Linked DNA regions of Homo sapiens. The protein of the gene in region 2 binds, or shares a complex with, the protein of the main gene of each other region. Each region holds a gene or a part of one and is shown on either strand. Other genes may lie near its edges. The genes, in order: FBLIM1 and FLNC.

Region 1 (16,136 bases), on a different chromosome or scaffold from region 2:
GACAGAGTCTCGCTCTGTTACTGAGGCTGGAGTGCAGTGCCCCAATCTCAGCTCACTGCATCCTCTACTTGAGGTTCAAGTGATTCTCATGCCTCAGCCTCCTGAGTAGCTGGGACTACAGGTGTGCGCCACCACGCCCGGCTAATTTTTTGTAGACACGGTGTTTCACCATGTTGGCCAGGCTGGTTTCGAACTCCTGACCTCAAGTGATCAACCCACGTTAGCTTCCCAAAGTGCTGGGATTACAGGCGTGAGCCACCGTGTCTGGCTTCCTCACACATTTTGGGTAGTAACATTCCCTTTGATCTCGTCTCACTTTCTATTTTGATTTTCCTTCTGTTTGGATGTCTTTATTTTACATATCGTAGTATTATTGCAGTCTTTAAAAAATTGTTTTATTGTGGGAAGAACACTTAACATGAGATCTACCTTTTTTTTTTTTTTTTTTTCTGAGACGGAGTTTTGCTCTTGTCAATCAGGCTGAAGTGCAGTGGCGCAATCTTGGCTCACCACAACCTCGTTTCCCGGGTTAAAGCAATTCTCCTGCCTCAGCCTCCCGAGTAGGTGGGATTACAGGCATGCGCCACCACATCCGGCTAATTTTTTGTATTTTTAGTAGAGACGGGGTTTCTCCATGTTGGTCAGGCTGGTCTCGAACTCCTGACCTCAGGTGATCTGCCTGCCTCAGCCTCCCAAAGTGCTGGGATTACAGGCGTGAGCCACCGTGCCCAGGCTTTTTCTTTTTTTTGAGATGGAGTCTTGCTCTGTTGCGCAGGCTGGAGTGCAGTGGTGTGATCTTGACTCACTGCAGCCTCTGCCTCCCGGGTTCAAGTGATTCTCCTGCCTCAGCCTCCCAAGTAGCTGGGATTACAGGCACGCACCATGCCTGGCTAGTTTTTGTATTTTTAGTAGAGACAGGGTTTTTCCATTTTGGTCAGGCTGGTCTCGAACTCCTAACCTCAGGTGATCCACCTGCCTCGGCCTGGCATGAGCCACGGCACCTGGCCAGTTAACATAATTTTATATGATGCTTTAAGAAGAAATGCGCCAGGCAAGGTGGCTTATGCCTGTAATCCCTGGACTTTGGGAGGCTGAGGCAGGCAGATCTCCTGAGGTCAGGAGTTCCAGACAAGCCTGGCCAACATGGTGAAACCCCCGTCTCTACTAAAAATACAAAAAATAGCCGGGCGTGGTGGTGGGCAACTGTAATCCCAGCTACTTGAGAGGCTGAGGCGGGAGAATCACGTGGAATTTTTCAGTGCACGCATGTTATTGTGGTCTATAGGTATATATGCATTCTCTTTAAAAACATATTTTAATAAAAAAATAGCTATATTAAAATAGAGATGGAGTCTTGCTATGTTGCCCAGGCTCGTCTTGAACTTCTGACCTCAAGTAATCCTCCCACCTCAGCCTCCCAAAGTGCTGAGATTGCAGGTGTGAGCCACCGCGCCTGGCTGGTATACATGCATTCATAGAAGCTGCCTCAAATTCCTTCTGGAATGAGGAGCAATGACAAAGAGATTCCCGAGGCAGGGCAGTGGGCTTCCCTCTAGCCTTTCCACCTTTTCTCCTGGACATGCTGTCTCTCCTTCCTGGCTGTGCTCCTGTGCATTTTACCTTGACCTCACCTGGACACGTGTGGGGGCATCTCCCACTCCCCCCTCCCTCTCATGGGCATGGCCCTTCTCTCCCCAGCACACTGCTCAAGTCTTCCTCCTGGCTGCTTCCTGCTTCCAGCTGGACACCCCTCCTCCCCTGGTGTCTCACCCCTGAGGAACACTCCCCCATGATGTTGATGGGGTCACAGGGACACGGCAGGGAGGGCCTGGCTCCTCTCTCTTCCCACAGTGCCTCACTGGTGGTGAGCCTGGGATTGGATTGTTTGGATTCTTCTGGAGAGTCTCAGCTCCAAATACTCTAACCCTTCAAATCAGCCGTTTTCAAACTTCTATATGCATGAGAATCACTTGAGACACTGATTCAAAATGCTGATTTCCAGGTGTTCCTCATTCATAAGCACAAAGAGTGGCCTACACATCCCCAGGGGATGCGGCTGTGGGTGGTCACCACACTCAACATGCCACCACAAACCATCCAAGAGTTAGAAATTCCAGTGTGCTGGCATCCCAGCTGGCTCTCCCAGATTGCACTTGGTACCCGGAAGCAACACAGATTCCCGTGAGATCAAACATTGGAACCCTGTGGCTCTACTCTAGGGGAGATAGTGGCAAGACTGATGGCAGGCTCCAGAGCCAGATGGGTGTGGAGTAGAATCCCAGCTCCTTGGCCATCTCGTGTGACCTCGTGTGGTAGCTAAGAGATGCCCCCAAAGATATCCAGTCCTTATCTCTGGACCCCGAATGTTACCTTGCCCGGCAAAAGAGGCTTTCAGATGGGATGAGCTAAGGATCTTAAGATGGGGGAGATTATCCTGATTATCCAGGTGGGTCCTAAATGCCATCGCGTGTCCCTGTAACTTGACACAGAGGTGACAATAGGGCCGCTGAAGTGGGATGCTACACTGCTGGCTTTGAAGCAGAGGAAGGAGTCAAGGAGAATGCAGCTTCATAAACTGCAAAAGGGGCCAGGTGCGGTGGCTCACACCTGTAATCCCAGCACTTTGTGAGGCCGAGGGGGTGGATTCCTTGAGGTCAGGAGTTTGAGACCAGCCTGGCCAAAGTGGTGAAATCCCATCTCTACTAAAAATACAAAAATTAGTTGGGCATGGTGGCAGGCACCTGTAGTCCCAGCTACTCAGGAGGCTGAGACATGGGAATTGCTTCAACCCGGGAAGCAGAGGTTGCAGTGATCTGAGATTGTACGACTGCACTCCAGCTGGGGTGACAGAATGAGCCTCCATCTTAAAAAAAAAAAAAAACAAAAAAAAACAGGCTGGGCGCAGTGGCTCATGCCTGTAATCCCAGCACTTTGGGAGGTCGAGGTGGGTGGCTCACGAGGTCAGGAGTTCAAGACCAGCCTGGCCAAGATGGTGAAACCCCATCTCTACCAAAAATACAAAAATTAGCCGGGTGTGGTGTCAGGTGCCTGTAATCCCAGCTACTCGGGAGGCTGAGGCAGGAGAATCCCTTGAACCTGGGTGGCCGAGGTTGCAGTGAGCTGACATCGTGCCACTGCACTCCAGCCTGGGCGATAGAGTGAGACTCCGTCCCCCACCGCAAAAAAAAAGAAGAAGAAGAAGAAAAAAAGAAATTGCAAAAGGCAGAGATGTGGGTTCTCCCTCAAGCCTCCAGACAGCACACCACCTTGGTTTTGGCCCAGTGAAGCTGATTTTGGACTTTTGATCTCCCGAACTGGGACAGAATAAACGTGTACTGCTGGAAGCCACGAAGGTTGTGGTGATCTCTTACAGGCAGCCCTAGGAAACCAATCGCCTTCACTGGGCTCCTTCTTTCTGAGCCTCAGTTTCCTCATCTGTGAAAGGGGTCAATAGTGCCTACTTCCCAGGACTGTGTGGGGAATGAAATGGTGCAACATATTCTAAGTGCTCAGCTCACTGCCTGGCACCCAGAGGTCTGCTGCAGGGGTTACCTGGTAGCAGGGTTCGCAGAGGGGTCGCCCATCCTTCTGGTAGAAGCTCTGCCCAGCCAGCTGGCGGCGGCAGGTGCGGCACGTGAAGCACTGGGCATGGTACTGCCTCTTCATGGCCTCCACAGCCAGCTCTCGGGGGGACACGGTCTTGTGGCAGAAGGCACAGATGTCTGGGGTAGGGGAGACACAGGCCATCACCAGCCCAGCCTGTGAGGACTGTACCCAGGCACCACCCAGAACATGCTCAGGATACCCGAGGCTCTGTCTTAAACCCTGCAAATTCCTCAAATGACAAATACAGAGGGTCATGAGGAGCATTAAAAAGGAATCTGAGTCAGGCATGGTGGCTCACACCTGTAATGCCAGCACTTTGGGAGGCCAAGGTGAGCGGATCACTTGAGGACAGGAGTTCAAGACCAGCCTGGCCAACATGGTGAAACCCCATCTCTACTAAAAATACAAAAATTAGCCGGGCATAGTGGCATGCCCCCGTAGTCCCAGCTACTCATGGGGCTGAGGCAGGAGAATCACTTGAACCTAGGAGGCAGAGGTTATAGTGAGCCGAGACTGTGCCATTGCACTCCAGCATGGGTAACAGAGTGAGGCTCTGTTTCAGGAAAAACAATAAAAATTAAAAAAAATAAAGAGCCCGGCGCGGTGGCTCACACCTGTAATCTCAGCACTTTGGGATGCCGAGGTGGGCGGATCACAAGGTCAAGAGATCGAGACCATCTGGCCAACATGGTGAAACCCTGTCTCTACTAAAAATACAAAAATTAGCTGGGCGTGGTAGCGGGCGCCTGTAGTCCCAGTACTCAGGAGACTGAGGCAGGAGACTCGCTTAAACCCAGGAGGTGGAGGTTGCAATGAGCCAAGATCGCGCCACTGCACTCTAGCCTGGTGACAGAGCAAGACTCTGTCTAAAAAAATAAAAATAAAAATAAATAACATAAATAAATAAGGAATTCTGGACAGCAGTTTCAGGACAAAGGGATTGTTGGCTGCCTTGACCTCCCAAAGTGCTGGGATTACAGGCATGAACCACTACACCCAGCCAGGAGCCACTTTGTTTATTTATTTTATTTTATTTTTTTATTTTTTTGAGACGGAAGCTCACTCTGTCACCCAGGCTGGAGAGCAGTGGCGCAATCTCAGCTCACTGCAACCTCCGCCTCCTGGGTTCAAGAGATTCTCCTGCCTCAGCCTCCCGAGTAGCTGGGATTACAGGCACACACCACCACACCCAGCTAACTTTCGTATTTTTAGTAGAGACAGCATTTCACCATGTTGGCCAGGCGGATCTCGAACTCCTGACCTCAGGTGATCCACCTGCCTCAGCCTCCCAAAATGCTGGGATTATAGGCGTGAGCCACCACGCTCAGCCAGGAGCCACTTTATATTCTGATGTGTGACCAGCTCTGAGATGTACGAAGGAAAGAAAGTGAACAGCAGAAGAGCCTAGTTTGCTACTTATGGAAAAATGGGGGGAGGGAGCAGGTGGACACATATTTGTATTTGCTCGTATGTGCATAGTGTCTTTGGCAGGATACATGAGAGCTCAATGACAGAGGACACCCATCTGGAAGGAAACCGGGTGGTAGGGGGATGGGGCAGGTTGCAGGCTTCTCACTGTGTCCCCACTCATGCTGTTTATTTTGCACTGTGTGAGGGCATTAGGTGTTCAGAAAATAAAATAGTGAGAAAAAATTCAAGACATTTTTGCTATCATAGCAAACTGCAGACTAACATTTTAAATAGAATTTAGGTATAAAGGGAAAAAGGCTAAAGCAATACAAATTAAATGGATGCCGAACTACAAAGCCCATCATTGTTAACATGAGCTGGGGTGGGGATGGGAAGAGGGGTCCTCACTCTCTTGGTTTCTACCTGGAAGCCCATGCTGGCCCCATGAGATCACCCCAGTATCCTCTCAGCCCTGTGCACCTACCTGTGGATGCCCCTTTCTCAACAGGTTCTGCCGGGGGAGGTGGCAGCTCTTCCTCCATGGGCCTGAGGGGACCGGGCTGGACTGAAGGTCCCTCCGCTGGGGCCTGTGGGGATGCAGACGGGGAGTCATCCAGTGGGACCCCATGCAGCCCTCCCAGCTCTGTTCCTCATCTGGGTGGTAACAGGTACAATTAGCCGCATTGTACCGAGAAGGAAACCAAGGCCCAGGGAAGCAAGGGACCTGCGTAAGTCTCTCAGCAGGAAGGTCACAGTGGCAGCTGACTGGGGTCCCTCAATCAGCCACTGCTCCTTGTCCTACTTAGAAGGACTCTCCTGCAACCAGGCTTCCCCATGGATGCTGGACTGAAGTGGACTAAGCCCTTGGCCTGTGACGCCCCCCATTTCTACACAGCCTCTGTTAAGGGCCCAGGGTTAAAAAACAGGTTCCTGGCCAGGTGCAGTGGCTCAAACCTGTAATTCCAGCACTTTGGGAGGCCGAGCCATGCGGATCACGTGAGGTAAGTAGTCTGAGACCAGCCTGACCAACATGGTGAAACCCTGTCTCTATAAAAGCACAATAAATTAGCCAGGCATGGTGTGGGTGCCTGTAATCCCAGATACTCAGGAGACTATGGCAGGAGAATCGCTTGAACCTGGGAGGTGGAGGCTACAGTGAGCCAAGATCATGCCATTGCACTCCAGCCTGGGTGACAGAGCGAGACTCCATCTCAAAAACAAACAAACAAACAAAAATCCAGGTTTCCTATGCAGCCTAAGGGATTTAGGTCGGACTCAGGGAAACGTCTTCCTCAGAGCTGAAGGAGGTGTCTGCGGCAGGTGCAGCAGCGAGGCAGTGGCATCCCTCTCCAGGGACCCTGAAACACTTAACCAATTTTTACCTGCCTAAATAGGGACTTCTGAGAGCTTCAAAGAGGGACTGCCCCCGAGCAGAAGAATGCACCAGACAAAGTCCAGGTTTAGAACCCCTGAATGCCCAGAAGGCCCAGACTCCCCGTGCCCCAACCAAGGGGACCAAGGGATTGCTGGGGGTCGGGGGGCAGGCAGTACCTGTGGTGGGGGCGGGGGCGGGGACAGGTGCAGCTGCTCTAAGTCTGCAATGAGTGAGGCCCCCATTGGAGCAGGAGCCTCCTCTTCAGAAGGCAGAAGCACTGGAGGGGGCGGTGGAGGGGGTGGGAGGAGGTCCAGGTCAGGAAGCACGTCCTCACCATCCAGGACAGGAGGAGGGGGTGGGCATCCTGCAATGGGGGAGGAGAGAGGGCTGGTCAGAGCCTCCCAGGTGGACCTGGGAGGGTTTTACTTACCTACATGGCCATACAGAGGGAAGCTGAGGGCCCCGGTCGGGATCACCCCGGCCTGGGTTCCATGTCTAACTCTGCCACTGATTTGCTGTGTGTCCTTAGGCAAGAAACTTAATCTCAGGCCAGGCACGGTGGCTCATGCCTATAATCTCAGCACTTTGGGAGGCCGAGGTAGGCAGTTCGCTTGAACCCAGAAGTTCAAGAGCAGCCTGGGCAACATAGTGAGACCTCAACTCTACTAAAAATTAAAAAAAATGTAGCCAGGCATGGCAGCACAAGCCTGTAGTCCTAGCTACTTGGGAGGCTGACGTGGAAGGATCACTTAAGCCCAAGAGGTTGAGGCTGCAGTGAGCTTAGATCACATTACTGCACTCCAGCCTGGGTGACAGAGCCAGAACCTGTCTCAAAAAAAAAAAAAAAAGCCGGGTGCAGTGGCTCACACCTGTAATCCCAGCACTTTGGGGGACTGAGGCAGGCAGATCACCTGAGGTTGGAAGTTTGAGACCAGCCTGACCAACATGGAGAAACCCCATCTCTACGAAAAACACAAAATTAGCTGGGCGTGGTGGGCATGCCTGTAATCCCAGCTACTTAGGAGGCTGAGGCAGGATATTCACTTGAACCCAGGAGGCGGAGGTTGCAGTGAGCTGAGATTGCGCCACTGCACTCCAGCCCGGGCAACAAAAGCAAAACTCCATCTAAAAAAAAAAAAATTAGGCTGGGCGCGGTGGCTCACGCCTGTAATCCCAGCACTTTGGGAGGCTGAGGCGGGCAGATCACCTGAGGTCAGGAATTTGAGACCAGCCTGGCAACCCTGGTGAAACCCTGTCTCTACTAAAAATACAAAAATCAGCTGGGTGTGATGGTGGGCGCCTGTAATCCTAGCTACTTGGGAGGCTGAGGCAGGAGAACTGCTTGAACCTGGGGAGCAGAGGTTGCAGTGAGCCGAGATCGCACCACTGCACTCCTGCTTGGGTGACAGAGCGAGACTTCGTCTCAAAATATACACACACACACACATACACACACACACACAAATTAGCTGGGCCTGGTGGTGAGAGCTTGTGGTCCCAGCTCCTTGGGAGGCTGAGGTGGGAGGATTGCTTGAGCCAGGGAGGTTGAGGCTACAGTGAGCCGTGATCACACCACTGCACTGCACTGCACTGCAGCTTGGGTGACAGAATAAGACCCTGTCTCGAAAAAAAAAAATGCAAATTCTCAGGCTCCACGGCAGATCTGCTGAATCAGAGATACTTGGGGTGGGAGCCTGCGGCTGTGCTGGAATGGACCCAGTGACTGTGTTGGTACAGGCCCGGGTGATGCTGCTGCTGACTCAGCGGAAGTGAGAGAAAGAGGCTCCGATGAGCTCACGGAGTCAGGAACCAGGTCTTGGAGAGGCAGTAAGAGTGCTGTGGCCTCTCCCAGTGCCTGCCTCCCGGTGCAGGGCCCATAGGCTATGATGGGCGGGCAGGAATTCAAGAGAGAAGCAGGGGGACCCGAGGCCACAGGGCAGGTGGGCAGAAAGGGGGTCCTGGACCCGCTCGAGGATGACTCTGAGAGGACAAGTACTAAGCAGATGGCAGATGGCAGCCTTCGGTGTAGACGGCTTCAAGCAGCTGGCAGCATCCCCAGGGCCCGGGGCCAGCCTTTGTGTCCTGCAGTCAGACCAGGCGCATGACCAAGCTGGTCACCTAAAACTTATCTCACTTCAGGGAGACTGAACCCCAAGATCCCCGTGCTCTGCTTGAGGGTATTAAATTGGCAGACGAAACGGCCAGCCAGCCATGCTGACCAGTGACAGGACAGCCCTTCCCAGGCAAGTTTGATCTTGTTCCCACACTCCCAAGATCCTCTTCCCATAATCCCAATAACCCATGAAAATGTCCCGGAAATTCTGACATCTAGCCTCTATTTCCCGGGCTCCCTTGCCCACCCAGAAGGGGCACATCTTTTTGTTTCCCGTTGATGTGTGAATTTTGTCAGGATGAATAATGAATGAATGAATGACGCTGGAGCCTGCCCTTTCCTCCCCACCTCTGCCTCTGACGTGGTCTTCCCCAAAGTCCCCTCAGCTCTTACCTCCATTGAAGAGCTGCATAGGTGCAGCCGGCACTGTGGCTGCAGCTCTGCCAGGGGTTGTCCAGGGGCTGGGCCTCCCCGCCAAGCCAGCCTCGGGTGTCTTCATGGGGGCAGGAGCCTCCCAGGGGCGGCCACGCCGGGCCTCACAAACTGCCTGCCTCACTTCCTCCGCCACGGCCACATCGCGGCGCGGGGGTGCCAGGGTGATAAAGACAGACGATGCCACCCTCTTCTCAGGCTTTGAGGCCATGGCTTCAGCTCCTGGTGTGGCTAGGGACAGAGTGGGGTACAGCACAGGATTGCCACCCAGACACACAGCCACCCTCCCCCGAGAGGAGAGAGCCTCCCTCCTCCCAAAAAGACAGGCCAGCCACCCTACCATCTCAACAACTCAGTCCAGCACCCAGCCCAGCCAGAGAAGGGGTGGGGGTGTCCTGCTGGGGAAGACAGGACCCACCAGGGAACTTGGCCACAGGGGTGAGACCCAAAAGTCCTGACTGCCCCTCCCCCGAACCTGCACACCTAGGGGAGCAAAGGGCAGCCCTCACCAATGATCACTCTTCCTTGTCTCACACCCGCGAGGAAGGAACAGATGCTTCAGCTCCCAGCCCCAGCAGGGCTGACTTCCGTTCCCAGTCTGGAGTCCCGCCTGCCTGCTGGGCCACACCCCAAGTGACCTCCCTCACCTGGGATCAGATTCTCCTAGAAGGGCTGAAGTCCTGGAGGTTCAGGCCAGCTCTGCTTTGGGAGGGAAAGAGAACAGATCAGGATCTGCCAGGGCGTCAGGGCTAGGCTCCGGCGGCAGAGTGGGCAGGGCACAGTGAGAGCTGCCCTCACCAAGACCGGCTCTGCCCTGAGCATGTTATACTCATTAACTCATAAACACTCACACGTTATGCTCATTAACTCATAAACACTCACAAGGTGGCTGCAGGGCAGGCACTATCATCACCCACCTAACACATCAAGAAATCGAGACTCAGAGAGAAGTCACCTGTCCAGGGTCACACGGTGGTGAGGTGGCACTGGAACCCAGAGCCCATGCTCTTGGCCACTTTGCTCTGCTCTGACCTTTCTCAGCCCTGCACATGAGCCAGCACCCTCCTTGCTTGCTTTCTAGTGCCAGACTCTCTCACTCCACCCAATCTCCAAAACCTGGGTCCTGGTTCAGGCCTGGGCAGTGGGCAGGGGGCAAGGGGAGAGATGGGGAGGCTCCATGGCCTCTGGTCTCACCTCCTAACCCTGATCTTTCTAGAGCATCAATCTCTTTCTCCTTTACTCAAAAACCTTCCATGGGCCGGGCATGGTGGCTCACAGCTGTAATCCCAGCATTTTGGGAGGCCGAGGCAGGTGGATCACTTGAGGCCAGGAGTTTGAGACCACCCTGCCAACATGGTGAAACCCCATCTCTACTAAAAATACAAAAATTAGCCATGCGTGGTGGTGGGCACCTGTAATCCCAGCTACTTGGGAGGGTGAGGCAGGAGAATCGCTTGAACCTGGGAGGCCGAGGTTGTGGTGAGCCAAGATTGCACCACTGCCCTCCAGTCTGGGCAACAGAGCGAGACTCTGTCTTTTTTTATTTATTTTTATTTTTTGAGACGGAATCTTGCTCTGTTGCCCAGGCCGGAGTGCAGTGGCACGATCTTGGCTCACTGCAAGCTCCACTTCCCAGGTTCACGCCATTCTCCTGCCTCAGCCTCCCGAGTAGCTGGGACTACAGGTGCCCGCCACCACGCCCGGCTAATTTTGTTTTTGTATTTTTAGTAGTGATGGGGTTTCACCATGTTAACCAGGATGGTCTTGATCTCCTGACCTCGTGATCCGCCCACCTCAGCCTCCCAAAGTGCTGGGATTACAGGCGTGAGCCATCGCACCCCGGTGAGACTCTGTCCCAGCACTTTGGGAGGCAGAGGCAGGTGGATCACCTGAGGTCTGGAGTTCGAGACCAGCCTGGCCAACATGGTAAAACCCCATCTCTACTAAAAATACAAAAATTAGCTGGGTGTGCTGGCGGGCGCCTGTAATCCCAGCTACTTGGGAGGCTGAGGCAGGAGAATCACTTGAACCCGTGGGAGTGGAGGTTGCAGTGAGGTGAGATGGCACCATTGCACTCTAGCCTGGGCAACAAGAGCGAAACTCTGTCTAAAAAAAAAAAAAGAAAAAAAGTATGGCTCTCCACCACCTCAGGATGAAGTCCAACTGCGGCAGCCTCAGCCTCTTTGAGCCCCTGGACCACTCGCCCTTCCTATGTCCTCTCTCTTGCCTTGCAGTGTTTCTTCTATGGTTTTCCTGTCCTGCCCCCACAGGGTGAATTTCAGCTTTCTCTTAGAGGCCCAGCTCAAACATCACCTCTTCCACAAGGCACCCCCCGATTCCTGGCCCTCTCCAGGGGCAGTTTCCTGCTGCCAAGGGTGGACGAAAGCGATGATAGCCCCAGGGCAGGACAGGCTGGCTCACAAGCTCACTATCAATGCGTCTGACCGGTGTCTGCATTCTTTGTGTGCCTAGAGGATATCAGAGCGCAGGCATCAAAACCCAGATCTGGCCACCCGATGGCTCACGCCTGTAATCACAGCACTTTGGGAGGTAGGCGATCACTTGAGGTCAGGAGTTCAAGACCATCCTGGCCAACATGGTGAAACACTGTCTCTACTAAAAATACAAAAATTTGGCCTGGCGTGGAGGCTTATGCCTGTAATCTTAGCATTTTTGGAGGGCAAGGTGGTTGGATCACGAGGTAAGGAGTTCAAGACCAGCCTGGCCAAGATGGTGAAACCCTGTCTCTACTAAAAATACAAAAATTAGCTGGGCATGGTGGCAGACGCCTGTTATCTCAGCTACTCGGGAGGCTGAGACAGAGAATTGCTTGAACCCGGGAGGCGGAGGTTGCAGTAAGCCGAGATTGCACCACCACACTCCAGCCTGGGCAACAGAGCAAGAGTCTGTCTCAAAAAAAAAAAAAAAAAAAAACAAATTAGCCAGAAATGGTGGCATGCACCTGTAGTCCCCAGCTACTTAGGAGGCTGAGGCAGGAGAATCGCTTGAATCCTGGGAGGCGAGGTTGCAGTGAGCTGAGATTGTGCCACTGCACTCCAGCCGAGGTGACAGAGTGAAACTCTGTCTCGAAAAAAAAAAAAAGAAAAGCATAAATCAGAGAGCATGGTGGCACCCTGATACCCTGATGTCAGGAAAAGGACATTATTTCCCATCTCTCAGGTAGTTCCTGCTGACAGTAGTCCCTGTGGCCAAGGCTGAGGTGGGGCCATGGGTGGGAAAGCTGGGAGTCCAGTGAGCACATCAGTCCTCAGCAGGCACCCAATGCCTGTGCCCAGGGCTAAAAATGTCCCCTTTTCTATCTCGCTCTTCAGGCTTCCCTCCTTATCTCAAAGTGCACTGGCCACTTTGGGTTCACAGCGACTGATGGATGATAATAAAAACAATAACACGTGCTCCTAAATTCCCTTAAGTTGTTTGGCTAAAATACATAGCTCAGTCTGACAATAAAATATCTATTCTGAGGAAGAAACCAATATATTAGGAAAGAGCTTCAAAACTTATTTTAAAGTACTTGTCTTTTGCTTCTGGGTTTGGAAATGATGTCTGGAAGTACGTATGCTTAGGCTGGCTGTCACGGGCTTTAGTTTTACACTTTGTTATAAGTTTAAGAATCTATTTTTGTCAACAATGTTCAGAGTACATGTGAGATTTAAAGAAATACCAAACGACTTGCTGATAAGGCACTTGTTTCGTGCCAGGCCCTGTGCCAGGTACTATATGTGCCTCAAAACCCACCAGCCTCTCAATCTAGCTGCAAGAAATGCCCATCCTGCCCCCACTTTGCAGATGGACCCTGTGAGGTTCCAAGAGGTTAAGTGACTTTCCCAGGCCATCCATGGCACTCGGAATTCTAATGGAACATCATCCAAAAGTGTGTCCCCAGACACGCTTTTCCTTCCTTGGGTGGCACAAAGTCGCCCAAGTTCCCAGGCCTGTTCTCACTCTACAATGGCCCAATCCAGACCAGAAATCTTGTGGTCGGCATGTTCCGGGCTGGTCCCCAGGGGCTGCTGTGGGGCTTCGGGATGGCCCTCTGCCTCCTCCCACCCAGCCCTGACCCTTCCTACACTCCTCCGGGAAGTCGGATCTGCCTGGCTTCTCGGAAAATGTCCAGCACTGAGGCCAGATGTTCACAGCTGGGCAGCCCCTATACCTCCCAAGCAGTGACTGCAGGGACCTCAGGCCCCAGGGGGTCTAAGCTGGGGAGTTTCAAAGCCCTGTCAATCCCATCGGGAGAGGGAGCCCCGGCTTCCCTCCCGTCCCACTGCCACCGATTCAGCTGGGAGCAGGCTGTGTGTAAGTTCCCTGGGGCCATCTCCCAGTCAGCTGTGCCCAGGGGACCCTCCGCCCCCACTCTTCCTCCCCCAGAGAGCGAATCACAGATCCAGTTAGATAAGTGGAGAAAAGTGGGAACAAAGGGAAGGAAAGTCATTTCCTGTCCAAAGGAAGGAAGGAGGCAGGGATCCAGCCAGCCACCCAGACCAGCTAGAGGCTGCAGCCTTGGGGCAGAGAATGTGCAGCTCAGGGGGGGTCACCCCCACAGTCCTCCTTCCTACTCCTTGTTCCCTACAAAGAAAAAAAAAAACAAAAAAACCTCTGGGGCCACCTCTAAGCTCTGTTCTTTTTTTTTTTTTTTTTTTTTCTGAGACAGAATCTTGCTCTGTGGCCGAGGCTGGAGTGCAGTGGCGCAATCTCAGCTCACTGAAACCTCCACCTCCCAGGTTCAAGCGATTGTCCTGCCTCAGCCTCCTGAGTAGCTGGGACCACAGGCACACGCCACCACCCCTGGCTAATTTTTGTATTTTTGGTAGAGACAGGGTTTCACCATGTTGACCAGGCTGGTCTCAAACTCCTGACCTCAAGTGATCCGCCCTCCTCGGCCTCCCAGAGTGCTGGGATTACAGGCTTGAGCCACTACACCCGGCTTAAGCTTTGTTATTTATTTATTTATTTTGAGACAGAGTCTCATTCTGTGGCCCAGGCTGCGCAGTGGTGCGATCTCGGCTCACTGCAACCTCCGCCTCCTGGGTTCAAGCGATTCTCGTGCCTCAGCCGCCGAATAGCTGGGATTACAGGCGCGCGCCACCACACCCGGCTAATTTTTGTATTTTTAGTAGAGACGGGGTTTCACCACGTTGGCCAGGCTGGTCTCCAACTCCTGACTTCAGGTAATCCGCCCGCCTCGGCCTCCCAAAGTGCTGGGATTACAGGCGTGAGCCACCGCTCCCGGCCAGCTTTGTTCTTTAATGACCGGATAAAGCAGTCTACCTTTGGGTACGGAATTAAATTTAGGCAGAAGTGGCGGGGTGTGCCCCAACCCCTCCCACCCTGCAACTTAGGGGAGGGGTTCCCTCAACCTCTTTCCCACCCCAGGGAAACAGAGGAGGTAGAGAGCTGGGTTCACACGCGGCCCCACTTCTTTCCTGCGGGGTGACCCCGAATAGGTCACAGAAACTCTCTGGCCTCGTTTTTTCATAAAGTGAGAATGAGTGTGTCCCTAGGGCGGCTGAGAGGATATATAAGGAAAGAAGACTCAGGGTCTAGGCCCTTGGAAGGTGCAAAGAGAAGGACAGCTGGTTAGGCAGCAGCTGAGAGGGAGAAGCAGCCCGGGGGCTGGGCTCGGCTGGGGGTGCCTCCAGGACCCGGACAGAACCTACAGCGTCATTAAGAGCAGGAATCTGGGCGCGGCCCCAGCCTCTCCCCGGGGTCCTCAGGCTTGGGTGGGAGGTGAGGGGTAGGGGCCGACGCCAAGATCATCCCAGGGCACACACCTGGGTATCGCCCATCTCCACACCTTCTCAGCCCCCGACGGGCGCGTGAGGCCCAGAGAGGAGCAGCCCCGGGACCCGTCCCTCCCCTTGCCTGACCCTGGCTAGGAAAAGGGGCCTGGAGCGCCCCCGGGCTCCGGAAACGCGGGACCCTCCGCAGGCAGCCGAGCAGGGCGGCCGCCGGGGTCACCGCTGGGCGCCGCCGGAGCTTTAATTCGATCCATGTGCGGGACTCCGGCCTTTTGTGCGGGAGCTTCCGCCCTGCGCGCCGGGTCCCCGGCTCCCGCTCCCGGGCTGGGACTCGGCCCTCCGCCGGCCTCACTGAGCCCTCGCCCCGGACCTGCCGACTCCCCGACTCCGGGGAGAGAGACCAAGAGACTGGGACGCAAAGGGCGTGAGGACCGCACCCCCCACCCGCAGGCCCCTCCAGGGGCGCCGCGCCGGGGGTCCCGGCTGGCGACCGAGCAGGCTCCGGCCGAGCACTGCCGGCGCTGTCACCTGTGTGCACCGGGGACAGGGACGGAGGGACGCGACCCCCACCCACCCGGCCCGCTTACCTGGGCCGCCCGCGCCCCGGCGGCTCCGATCCGACGCCCGAGCCAGCGGAGCCCGGAGCCGCTGGGCCTCCCGTCCCCTCCGCCCGTCCGCCCTCCCCGCCCCCTCGGCTCCCTCCGCCCCGCCGCCCCGCGCCGCTTTACCATAAAAGGTGAGGCTCGGGGGGAGGGGGCGCGGGATTCCCGCCCCGCGGAAGCGGCCCCTACCTGCCCCCCAACCTGCCCGGCCGCGCCCCGCGCCGCCCCTTCCCCCTCCCTTTGTTCCCTGGACGACGCCTCCCCTCCCCCTTGGCACAGGCCAGGGGGTGGGAATGGGGGGGAATGGGGATGGGGGCGATGGGGGAATGGGAGGGATGGGGAGTGGGGGTAGGAGAATGGGGAGTCGGGGTGGGTTTCCTTCCCTCCCCGCTGCCCATCCCCTCGCGTTCTTCATGGACCCCGAGTGGTCCCTGCCGTCCCCCTTCCCTCGCTCTCCTGGGTTGGCAACCCCACCTACCCTGTCCGGCGGAGGTGAGCGCTTACTTTGGCTCTGGGATCCGCCAGGGTCTTGCGTCAAACCGACCAGGGTTCTGCGGCCGTTTACTAAGCGTGAGACCCGGAGCAGTCACGCCACCTCCTGAGCCTCAGTGTCTTCATCTGTAAAGTGGAGGTAGCCACTGCCTACCTCTCCAGGTTGGCCTGAGGATAAAAGGTGACAGTTACAGCCAGGACTGTGATTAATAGTGGTTAATATATGCTGGGTTGGGGGCTTTTTCCGGGAGTGTTCCTGAGGGTGGGGGTCTCGGAGACCCCCAGTGGAGCAGGTCACCTTGTTCTGCTCTCCTGAGCGGTAAGCCCTCTGCAGGTGGGTCCCGGTG
Region 2 (9,191 bases):
CCTAAATTAATAAAATGTGAAAATAAAATGTTTTCAAAAATGAAATGTATTTCTGACACTGTGGCTGAAATAATAAAAAGATGGGAAATTAGATAAGGGAAAAAATTTCCAATTTCAGCAGTCCCAAGTCATACAATATTTGAAGACATGACCTGCCCGGGCAGCTGGGTCTGCAGAGGGCAGGGGAGTTCTGCAGACGATGCGTGCAAGAAGGCCCAAGGCTGGCCTGAGCCGCCAAGAGGAGTGGACTGTGTCTGAGTTTCTGGACACACAGTGAGTGGTGGACCTGCAAAGCCAAGGTCTTGAGCTCCAGACAAGGGGCTAGGAGGCCAGAGTGTGTTCCTGTGATTGACTAGGGGGGCTGTCACATCAACCCTCATTGCCTGCCTCCTCCACGTCCTCCCTCTGGCCGGGCTCCGGCCCCAACCCACTCTAGGCTGTCCTCTCTATGAACATTCTTACCCAACTTCCTTCCAGTTTCCCCCTTGTGGGGCGAGCATCCTGCACCCTCCCTTGTCTTCCCTGAGACCCCGACCACTCTCTCTGCACACCTGGGATGGGCCGCCCCCCGAAGGTGATGTTGACGTCATAGTCTCCAGGAGTGAAGGGGATGTACTCCACGGTGCAGCTACCATCCTTGTTGTCCTTGCAGGACATCTTGGCTTCCGAGGGACCCTCGATGGCTAGGCCAAGGCCCCCGGTGCCCGCTCCCCTGAGAGATAACATCCCCCCATCAGCTTCATAAGACCAGTGAGTGAGGATGAGGGAGTAGCTGAATGGGGGGACAGGGAGGAAAGAGGGCAGGCCGCTGGGGACCCAGCTGAGGAGAAACGAGCTACAGGGGCCAATCTGGGGTCCTGGAGGGGGTCTGCTCCTGCCTCACCCCTGAGAGAGGATGGGGTGGGGCTGAGGCCCAGGCAGAGGGATGAGCGAGGAGGGCCAGGGGCTGGGAAAGGGTGGTCACAGATTTAGGCTAGCAAAGGGGGAGGATACCTGGTCTCCACAGTGAATCGGTTGGCCTTGTTGACCAAGCCACCCTCCAGGCCTGGCCCGAAGGCTCGGACGCGGGTGGGATCACAGCCCTCGGTCACGCCCACTCGGAAGGGGCTCTTGGGCACAGCGACCTCATCATACAGGACCTCCACCAGATGCACGCCTGGAAGCCAGCCACAGGGGCATCAATCAGGGAGTGTGCGCCCCCACCACCCCTCCTGCCCCGAGGGCAATATCATCAGATCCCGGCCCTGCCCACTTGCCCAGCCCTGCCCACTAGCCTGGCCCACCGGCCCTCACCCTCCTCGTAGGCGGTGTACTGCACTCGGTAGGTGCCGTCCCCATTGTCTGTCACATAGGTGTCTGTCTTGGCCCCCGAGGGGTTGAGCACACGAGCCGTCACGTGGTTGCCGCCTGTGGCTGTTAGGGATCTTGCATCCACAGTGAACTCAGTGGTCACCTCCCGCAGGACACCTGGAGCCCAGGGGTGGCGTGTTCAGCAGGGGTGGGGGCAGCCTTCACACAGATGCTCCCTCTCCTCTCCCCCTCCTTTCCCTCTCCTCTCCCTCTCCTCTTCCCCTCCTCTTCCCCTCCTCTCACCCTCCTCTCCCCCTCCTCTCCCACTCCCCAACTCCCAGGCTGCTCCTCTAATCGGAGCCTGGGCCCCACACCCTCCCCTGCACCTCTGTGAGCTCCAGCCTCTGCCTTCACTCCCTTCTCCATGTAGTGACATTCTCTGTTCACTTGAGTCACCCACCAGGCTGTGGGCCTGGGTCTTGCATCCCTCTGCCGTGGCCCATGCCTAGCCAGGGTCTGGCCCCTGGCAGATGGCCCATTCCCACTTACTGTCTTCTGACTCTTGTCATCCTCTACCCCAAAGCTTTCCCCGTGCCCCCGTCCAGAGCAGAGTTTTAGCTTTTTGGATCAGGGTACCCCTTAAGCACATGAAAGAAGAGATCTCTCCAGAAAAACGCCCAGAGGCAGGTGCAGTTTTGCCACAAGAGCAGAGGCCAATCTCCACCCCCGGTCTTCCCCTCCACTCCTTCTCTGGGGTTTCTGGGCCAGTAAGGACTCTGGGGCTGCTCCGAGAGCCCTCCCTTCACCCCAGGTTGCTCTTCCAGCTCTCAGCTCTTCTTCCCTCCCTCCCACGGACTACCCAGCTCCTGCACCTGCCACTTGACCTTTCTTGGCTCCTCCTGTCCACTCACCGTGTGGCTCAACACCAGGCCCTGAGACCTTGACGCCACTGGTATCGACCGCAGGCTGCACATGGACACGGGTGGGGAATTTGGGCACGGGATGCCCGCCATACTTGATGGTAATGGTGTAGGTGCCAGGGAAGGCAGGGCTGTAGGTGATGTGGTAGGTGCCATCCGCGTTGTTGTGGATCAGCACCTCGGCCTTGACCCCGGCATCCGACAGGATCTCAATGGTCAGCTCCGCCTCGCCTGCCTCTGAGCAGTCCACAGTGAAGGTGGCTGCCTCACCGACCTTGCCGCGCTCCAGGCCCGGTCCACTGGCCCGCACCTTGCTCGGGTCAAACACAGGCCGAATGGTGGCTTTGAAGGGCGAGCCAGGGATGTGGGCCTCAGCAAACAGGATGTTGATGGTGTACTCGCCAGGCTCCGTGGGCAGGTAGCTGACAGCACATGAGCCATCACCATTGTCCTGGCACTCGATCTTGGCCTCGCAGGGGCCCTCTACGGTCAGCCCCAGGCCACCTGTGCCAGCCCCCTTGGTGTCGATGGAGAATGGCGCGGGGGTGCCTACCAGTCCACCCTTGAGACCCGGGCCATAAGCACAGACCTAGGGGAAGAGGCAGGTTGTGGGTTCCCTGCACCTGGCCTCCTCATCCCAGCCTTCATGGCCCCCACCCAACTCATCACCTCCAACTGTGGCTGCTACTGTGGACTGAGTGCTTATAACAATCCCAGGTGATGACATTGAGGCAGCGAGATGAAGCAATTTGCCCCAGTTAGTGGACCTGGGATTCAAGCCCAGGTGTGACTCCAAGGCCAGGCTCTTAATAGCTAAGTTGTCTCCAAGGCAGGTGGTGGGGTGGGGCTGGCCTCAGCCCCACACCCTTGGCTGTGCCCACTCCAGGCACATAAGTCCCTCTGGCCTCTGCCCCCTATGACTCATCTATCTTCCCAACAAGTCCCCAACTCCCAGCCCCAACCAGCTCCTATCTCCTCACCTTGGAGGGATCAGGGGGCAGGACACCCTCCACAGCAAACGGGCTGCCAGGCACCGGGTGACCATCGTAGGTGATATCCACCTTGTAGGGCCCCTCCTCCGGGGGCATGTAGCGCACAGCCTGGGCTTCCGCTCCACCGCCTGGCTCCAGCTTGCAGGGGATGGGCCGGCGAGAGGGCGAAGTCATCCGCACATCCAGTTGGCCCTGACCGCCAGCCCCTCGTGTGTTCACAGAGAATGCTTGTTCCTGTCCCACAGCCACCTCTGCGTGGAGGGCAAGTGACACCATGAGGAGACTCCGGTCCACCCTACCCGAATACCCCTCACTCCCAGGGTGGCTCTTGCCCCACTTACTGCTATTAAGGCCCTGAACTTTGATTTTGCTGAGGTCCAGCGGGGGTGCCACATTCACCACAAAGGGGCTCTTGGGGACAGGGTCCCCGCCATAAGTCACTGTCACTGCCATGTTGCCCTGTTGGGTACAATGGTAGGTCAGAACTGGATATAAGGCAAGGTCCTACAACATCCTGGTGGTGAATATGGGCTCTGAAGCTCAGATCCACCATGAGAGTGAGGGCAGGAGGCAGGAAAGGCGTGGAGGATCCAGAACTGGTCCCATGGGACTGGAGGAGGGAGACCCAGGGCTCTGGCGGGCCGGCCGGGCGGTAGCATGGGAGGGGCAGAGCGCACCTGCTGGACAGCGGTGTACTTGACAGTGTAGGAGTAGTCATGGTTGTCTATGATCTCAAAGTCCCGCACAACCTCGCCCTTGGCTGTCCCTGCAAACTGCACATCCAGCTTGGCCTTGCCGGCTCCCTTGGTCAGCACCGTGAAGTGGGTGGGCTTCCCGACTTCCACACCTGAGGACCCACCCAGAGATGTGGTGAGGGCCTGGCAGCCACCTAACCCCAACCTCGAGCCAGTCCCAGCCCCTGCCCAGACACTCACCTGTGCGATTCAGCCCAGGGCCCTCGGCCTTGACTTTGCTGGCATCGTGGGATGGGTCCACCTTGATGTGGAAGGGGCTGGCGGGGATCTCCTGGATGTGGAGGAGGCTCAGTCAGGGCTCTCGAGGGGAACACACCCCTGCTCTCAGCTAGATGCTGGCTCAGGACACACCCAGGGGACCCAGCATGGACAGGGGCAGCCTCCAAAAGGGCCCCCTTTGCTTCCTCTGAGGCACCCTGCCTCACACAGGTAGGGCTCCACCATGTCTGCGGAATCATCCCTCCCTGTTCCCAGTGACAGCATCTCCAGCTGCCTTCTGGAGCTGGCAGGTGCATGTCGCTGTGAGTACCCAGGAGCTTAGGTACCTGGTTGGCAAACAGCACCATGATGGTGTAGCGGCCCGCCCCTGGTGGCGTGTACTTGACGGTGAAGGTGTCGTTGTCATTCTTGATGATGTCGAAGTCAATGTCAGCCTCTGCAGGGCCCACCACGCCTGGGGCGCACTTGATGCCGATGCTCACGTCGCCTGCAGAGAAGCGGGCACTGCTGTGAGTTGGGCTCAGCCCCCGACTCGACTCACCCCCGCCCCCTCCCAGACCCACCCCTTCCGGCTGGGCGCACCTTGCCCCGCCTCGCTGCAGTCCACCGTGAAGTAGGTGGGCTCATTGGCCTTGAGGCCTGTCTTCTCCACTCCGGGGCCGTACACCTTTACCCGCTCGGGGTGGCTGCCCTCGCCCACGTTCACCTGCGGGAGGGGTCGCAGCTCAGCGTGGTGCCCTCCCTCAAGGCTCATCCTCCTGCCCAGCGCACCCGGCCCAGCCTCAGTGGCACCAGCCCAAGCCTCAGTCCCAGCCTGAGCCCAGGGACAACAGGGACTCCAGCGAGGGTTCCGCCCTCCCTCAGGGACCCCTGGTGGTGGGCACGGGGCAGGCCGGGAGGACGCACCCGGAAGGGGCTCTTGGGCACGTTTACGCCTCCCCAGGAGATGATGATGGTGTGCTTAATGGGCTTGGTGGGCACGTAGGAGCAGCGGAAGGTGCCGTCGCCGTTGGGGATCACCTTGATGTCGATGGGACAGCCGTCGGCGTCCTGTGGGCATCACCCAAGCAAAGTTCATAGCTGTGGCCTCTGCAGAGCGCCCTCTGCTGGCCGCAGGTGAACCCAGCGCCTCCTTTCCCACCCCCAACACTGGCACTCCCGCCCCCACACCAGCCACTGAGGCCACCAGAGCCCAGGGCCACGTGCTCTGGCGGCCAGAGCCCACCCTGGGAGCCTGACTCAAGGCCATCTGTATGGCTTGCTCTCCCAGCCTAGGTTTCCTCAACTCTGAAATGTGTTGGACAGGAAGAGTGTGGGCTAAATTTATGTTCCTAAAACTGAATCATGAGCCTTTCAAAGAAGAATCACCCTCTTAGATCCTCAAGAATATGTTCATTAACCTCTAGGGGTCAATGGACACCAGTCTGAGAAACTGACTTGGGAAACCAGTGTCTTATTCAATGAAACAATCTTTCAATTACAAATTAGCACAAAAATGACTCTTTGGTAAAATACGTTTTTAGGTTATCATCGTTAAGAAAACACAAAATTTAAAATTTTCCATGGTACTGATGGGCCCATGAGTATCAGTCCTGCCTGATCTTCTGTGATGCTGTCATTTCCTGCTGGGAGGCCTCTGCCTCTGGCCTGGCCCTGCCTTCCAGGGTCCCTGCCATGGGTAGTAAGGGCAGCAGAGACTGGACAATGACCTACCTGGGCATAGAGCTTCAGGTCTCCCTTGCCAGCTGCACGAGCATCAATGGTGAACTCAGCGGGCTTGTCCACGATGCAGCCGGTAGGCTCCAGGCCAGGCCCAAAGGCCTTCACCTGTGCGGAGGGAAGAAGGCTGAGTTGGGGAGGGGAGGAGAACCAGCTTGCCCCACCCCCGGGGCAGGTGTGTGTGAGCTGGGACCACACCTTATCTGGGAAGCAGTCAGGTGGGGCGGGCAGGATGTGGGCAATGAAGGGTGAGTCTCGGATGTCCTCATCGTCACAGATGACGTGCACAGCGTACTCCCCAGGCTCCGTGGGCCAGTACCGCACATCGCAGGAGCCATCCCCCTTGTCGTCACATTCGATCTTGGCTTGTGAGGGCCCCTCGATGGAGAAGCCTGGGGCAAGGTGGGGGAGGGTCGGGGATCCAGCATCAGGCAAGACCCTTCCGTCCCCCAGCTCCCCTCTAGCTGCCCTCATGTCCTATCTCCCTGCTCACCCCAGCGCTCCCCAGCATGCGCACTGCACCCATTACCCACAGTGTCCCCTGCTGCCCTCCCCCGCAGCACTCCCTCCTCCTGCCCCCCAGCCACTTACCCAGTGTCCCCACCTCGGTGCCAATGGCTTCCACCACAAAATCGGCTGACTTGCCCACCTGGCCAGTCTCCAAACCAGGACCCCAGGCCCGGACCTTTTGCACTCCTGCCTCTGGGCTCACCTGTACCTCAAAGGGGCTGGGCAGAGAGGGAGCTGGTGTCCATGCCAGGAAGTGCCCCCCAAAGTCCCTCGCAGCCCAAACTCCATCTCCCCTCAAACTCCCTCGCAGCCCAGTGCCCCTCGTCCCTCCCTGTGATGGCCTAGACAGGACAGCATGGGGGGCGCAAGGTACTCACCTGCGAGGGATGGCGTAGCCGCCCCACGTGATGGTCACCACATACTTCCCAGGCACCACCGGGTAGTACTCGCACTCGAACACACCATCCCCAGCCTCCCGCACCTTCACTGGCTCCTCTGTGCCCTCTGAGGAGATGGGGGCAGGGTGGGGAAGAAGGCAGATCAATATCCTTGAAGTCCCAGCTCCTCAATCCCCTCAAGGAGCCATTGGGACCCCGACCCAGCCCGAGGGCAGTGCTGTAGTGAGCAGTGCTGCAACTCAGGGCAGGGAACACTTGTCATCCCTGTGCATAACACCCCGTATAGCACTTAGGGTGGAGAGAATCATTCCTGGCTTGTAGACCAAGAAACTGAGGCAGAGAGGAGACAATGAGCCTGAGATTCTGGGGTGCCTCTGGTCACTGTGGAGCTGTGGTGCTGGCTGTCACTGCCCTCTGGGAGTCAGAACCACTGGCCATACTTCCCTTATGATCCCCCAGCCCCACCCTCACGACCCTGGGCTCTGGCACTCACTTGGCCCCTTGACCGTGACCTTGAGCTCCCCGCTGCCGGCACCCTTGGTAAACACCTTGAAGTCAGCCACCTCTTTCACGCGAACACCCTTGGGCTGCAGGCCTCGCCCAGAGGCGCGGCAGGCGTTGGGGTTACAGGCTAGGGGAGGAAGAGAAAGGAGGTTGGGGGTGCTGAGGGGCCTTGGACCACTAGCCCCCACCTCCCTGTGCACAGTCCTTCTAACCCCTCCCAGGCACAGGCAGTGGCCCACGGCCCTGCTCTGGAGCCCTTTGTGTCCCCAGCACAACCGGGGCTGCCGGGCTGGAGCTGGCTACAGGCCCCAGATCAGGCAGGTTACAAGAAAGTTTCCGAGCCAGTGCCACTGGGGAAATGCATGGCAGAGCCTGGGCTGAGAGTGGGCTCAGAGAGACAGGGAAGGCCCCTTTACCCAGCCCAAGGCCATCCATCTAGAGCCCTCTGGGCCTCTCAGGGCACCAAAGCAACCTTAGGATCTAAGTCATGCCACAAAACATCCAGCAATGCCACAGAACAAGGGCTACTTCATAGAACTCGAAGCCTGCCATACAACACAGGCAACGTGTGGACATCAGCCTACCACAGACCGTGGCCAGTGGCAATGAGCCCAGGCCTTGCTATGGAACACAGGCAAAGGAATGGGAATCTCAGCCTGCCACAGAATCCAGAAAAATGGCATGGGACCCACAGGTGCTACGAAACAGGACACGACACATATTCCAGGACTACCATGACCATAGGCGATGGCACTGCCCAAGGGGTACCACGGAACACAGGCAATGGCTCAGAGCCCAGATTTCATCATAGAAATCACCAGGCAAGTGGCAAAGACACTAGACCTGCCACAGAACACAGACAACGGCATGGAACCTGGGGCCTGCCACAGAATGCCAAGGAAGGGGGGGCGATTCCACACGGCCCGGGCCATGCCACACAGCACAGGTGAGGCCAGTCAGCTGCGGCCATGCCTGGCCCCGCCTCCACTGGAGAGCATTAATGTGGCATCACTCTCGGCCTGGTGGACGATGGGCACTGAGTGCAGGGAGAGAACAAGTGGGGCAGTCACCACCTGAGGGCTTGGCATGCAGGCAGTACTCCCTAGATATGCCCCCACCCATACAGCCCCGTCACTTCCGCTCAGCCCTCCCAGGGTGGCACATGTTCTGGGACCCTTCACTGTGGCCTCCCAGCTGTGCTCTTAGGAACTCCAGCCACCTTGGGGGTGGGATGGAGGACTCAGGGAGGGGGTCTCTGCAGACCCCCGCCCCAGCTCTTCCTCCTGCCCCTTGCAAGCCTCTGGCTTTGGTAAGGGCTACCGTGGGGAGCAGTGAAGGGCCCTTACCTTCCGACACATGGACAGGGAAGGGACTGCGGGTGATGGGGGCACCCGCAAAGGCCACATGCACGGTATGTGGCCCCTCCATGGCAGGTCTGTATGTGCAGCGGAACGTGCTGTCACCCTTGTCCTCCAGGGCCACCTCCACTGTGTCCCGCCGGCCCTGTGGGTCCACGATCACCACAGCAACATCGCCAGTGCCGGCCCCTGCCGAAAACAGAGGCTGTCAGCACCACTCTGGACACACACAGCTGCCCCGGTGCCCTCACCCTGAGGCTGCCCACCCTCTGGCTGGCATCCCTGTCCCAGCCTCCCCCCACCCCCACACAGCCCCACATGGTCAGGGGCTTTCCACCTGCACCCCCTGGGGCCCGTCCTACCCGCAGTGTAGATGTCAAAGTAGGTGGGTTTGTTGGCCACATTGCCCACAGGTTCCAGGCCAGGGCCACGGGCTGACACCTTGTTGGCATCTCCCAGGGCCATGCCCACGTTCACCTCAAAGGGACTGCGTTCAATGTTCTGGCCAGCAAAGAGCACGGTCACC

The links.
Region 1: the proteins of FLNC (region 2) and FBLIM1 are in contact, whole or in part, in an NMR structure (PDB 2K9U), measured with the Homo sapiens proteins. Residues at the interface, in NP_001449.3 of Homo sapiens: Thr2339, Ala2344, Gly2345, Gly2346, Leu2347, Ser2348, Ile2349, Ala2350, Val2351, Glu2352, Gly2353, Pro2354, Ser2355, Lys2356, Ile2359, Phe2361, Asp2380, Glu2382, Phe2387; in NP_001337080.1 of Homo sapiens: Arg8, Val9, Ala10, Ser11, Ser12, Val13, Phe14, Ile15, Thr16, Leu17, Pro19.

What each region holds. Positions count from the first base shown.
Region 1 is NC_000001.11:15,757,995-15,774,130, reverse strand, and holds the start of FBLIM1 (filamin-binding LIM protein 1), read right to left. Parts: upstream 15,337-16,136; 5' UTR 15,283-15,336; intron 9,639-15,282; exon of another isoform or gene 9,636-9,638; 5' UTR 9,446-9,635; intron 9,168-9,445; 5' UTR 9,148-9,167; coding exon 8,898-9,147; intron 6,756-8,897; coding exon 6,568-6,755; intron 5,604-6,567; coding exon 5,501-5,603; intron 3,723-5,500; coding exon 3,553-3,722; intron 1-3,552. UniProt on the Homo sapiens protein: Serves as an anchoring site for cell-ECM adhesion proteins and filamin-containing actin filaments. Is implicated in cell shape modulation (spreading) and motility.
Region 2 is NC_000007.14:128,838,266-128,847,456, reverse strand, and holds part of FLNC (filamin-C), read right to left. Parts: intron 9,191-9,191; coding exon 9,028-9,190; intron 8,855-9,027; coding exon 8,654-8,854; intron 7,435-8,653; coding exon 7,297-7,434; intron 6,910-7,296; coding exon 6,783-6,909; intron 6,624-6,782; coding exon 6,487-6,623; intron 6,288-6,486; coding exon 6,094-6,287; intron 6,004-6,093; coding exon 5,890-6,003; intron 5,227-5,889; coding exon 5,083-5,226; intron 4,883-5,082; coding exon 4,759-4,882; intron 4,664-4,758; coding exon 4,503-4,663; intron 4,229-4,502; coding exon 4,138-4,228; intron 4,050-4,137; coding exon 3,880-4,049; intron 3,662-3,879; coding exon 3,544-3,661; intron 3,454-3,543; coding exon 3,191-3,453; intron 2,800-3,190; coding exon 2,202-2,799; intron 1,468-2,201; coding exon 1,294-1,467; intron 1,157-1,293; coding exon 994-1,156; intron 713-993; coding exon 552-712; intron 1-551.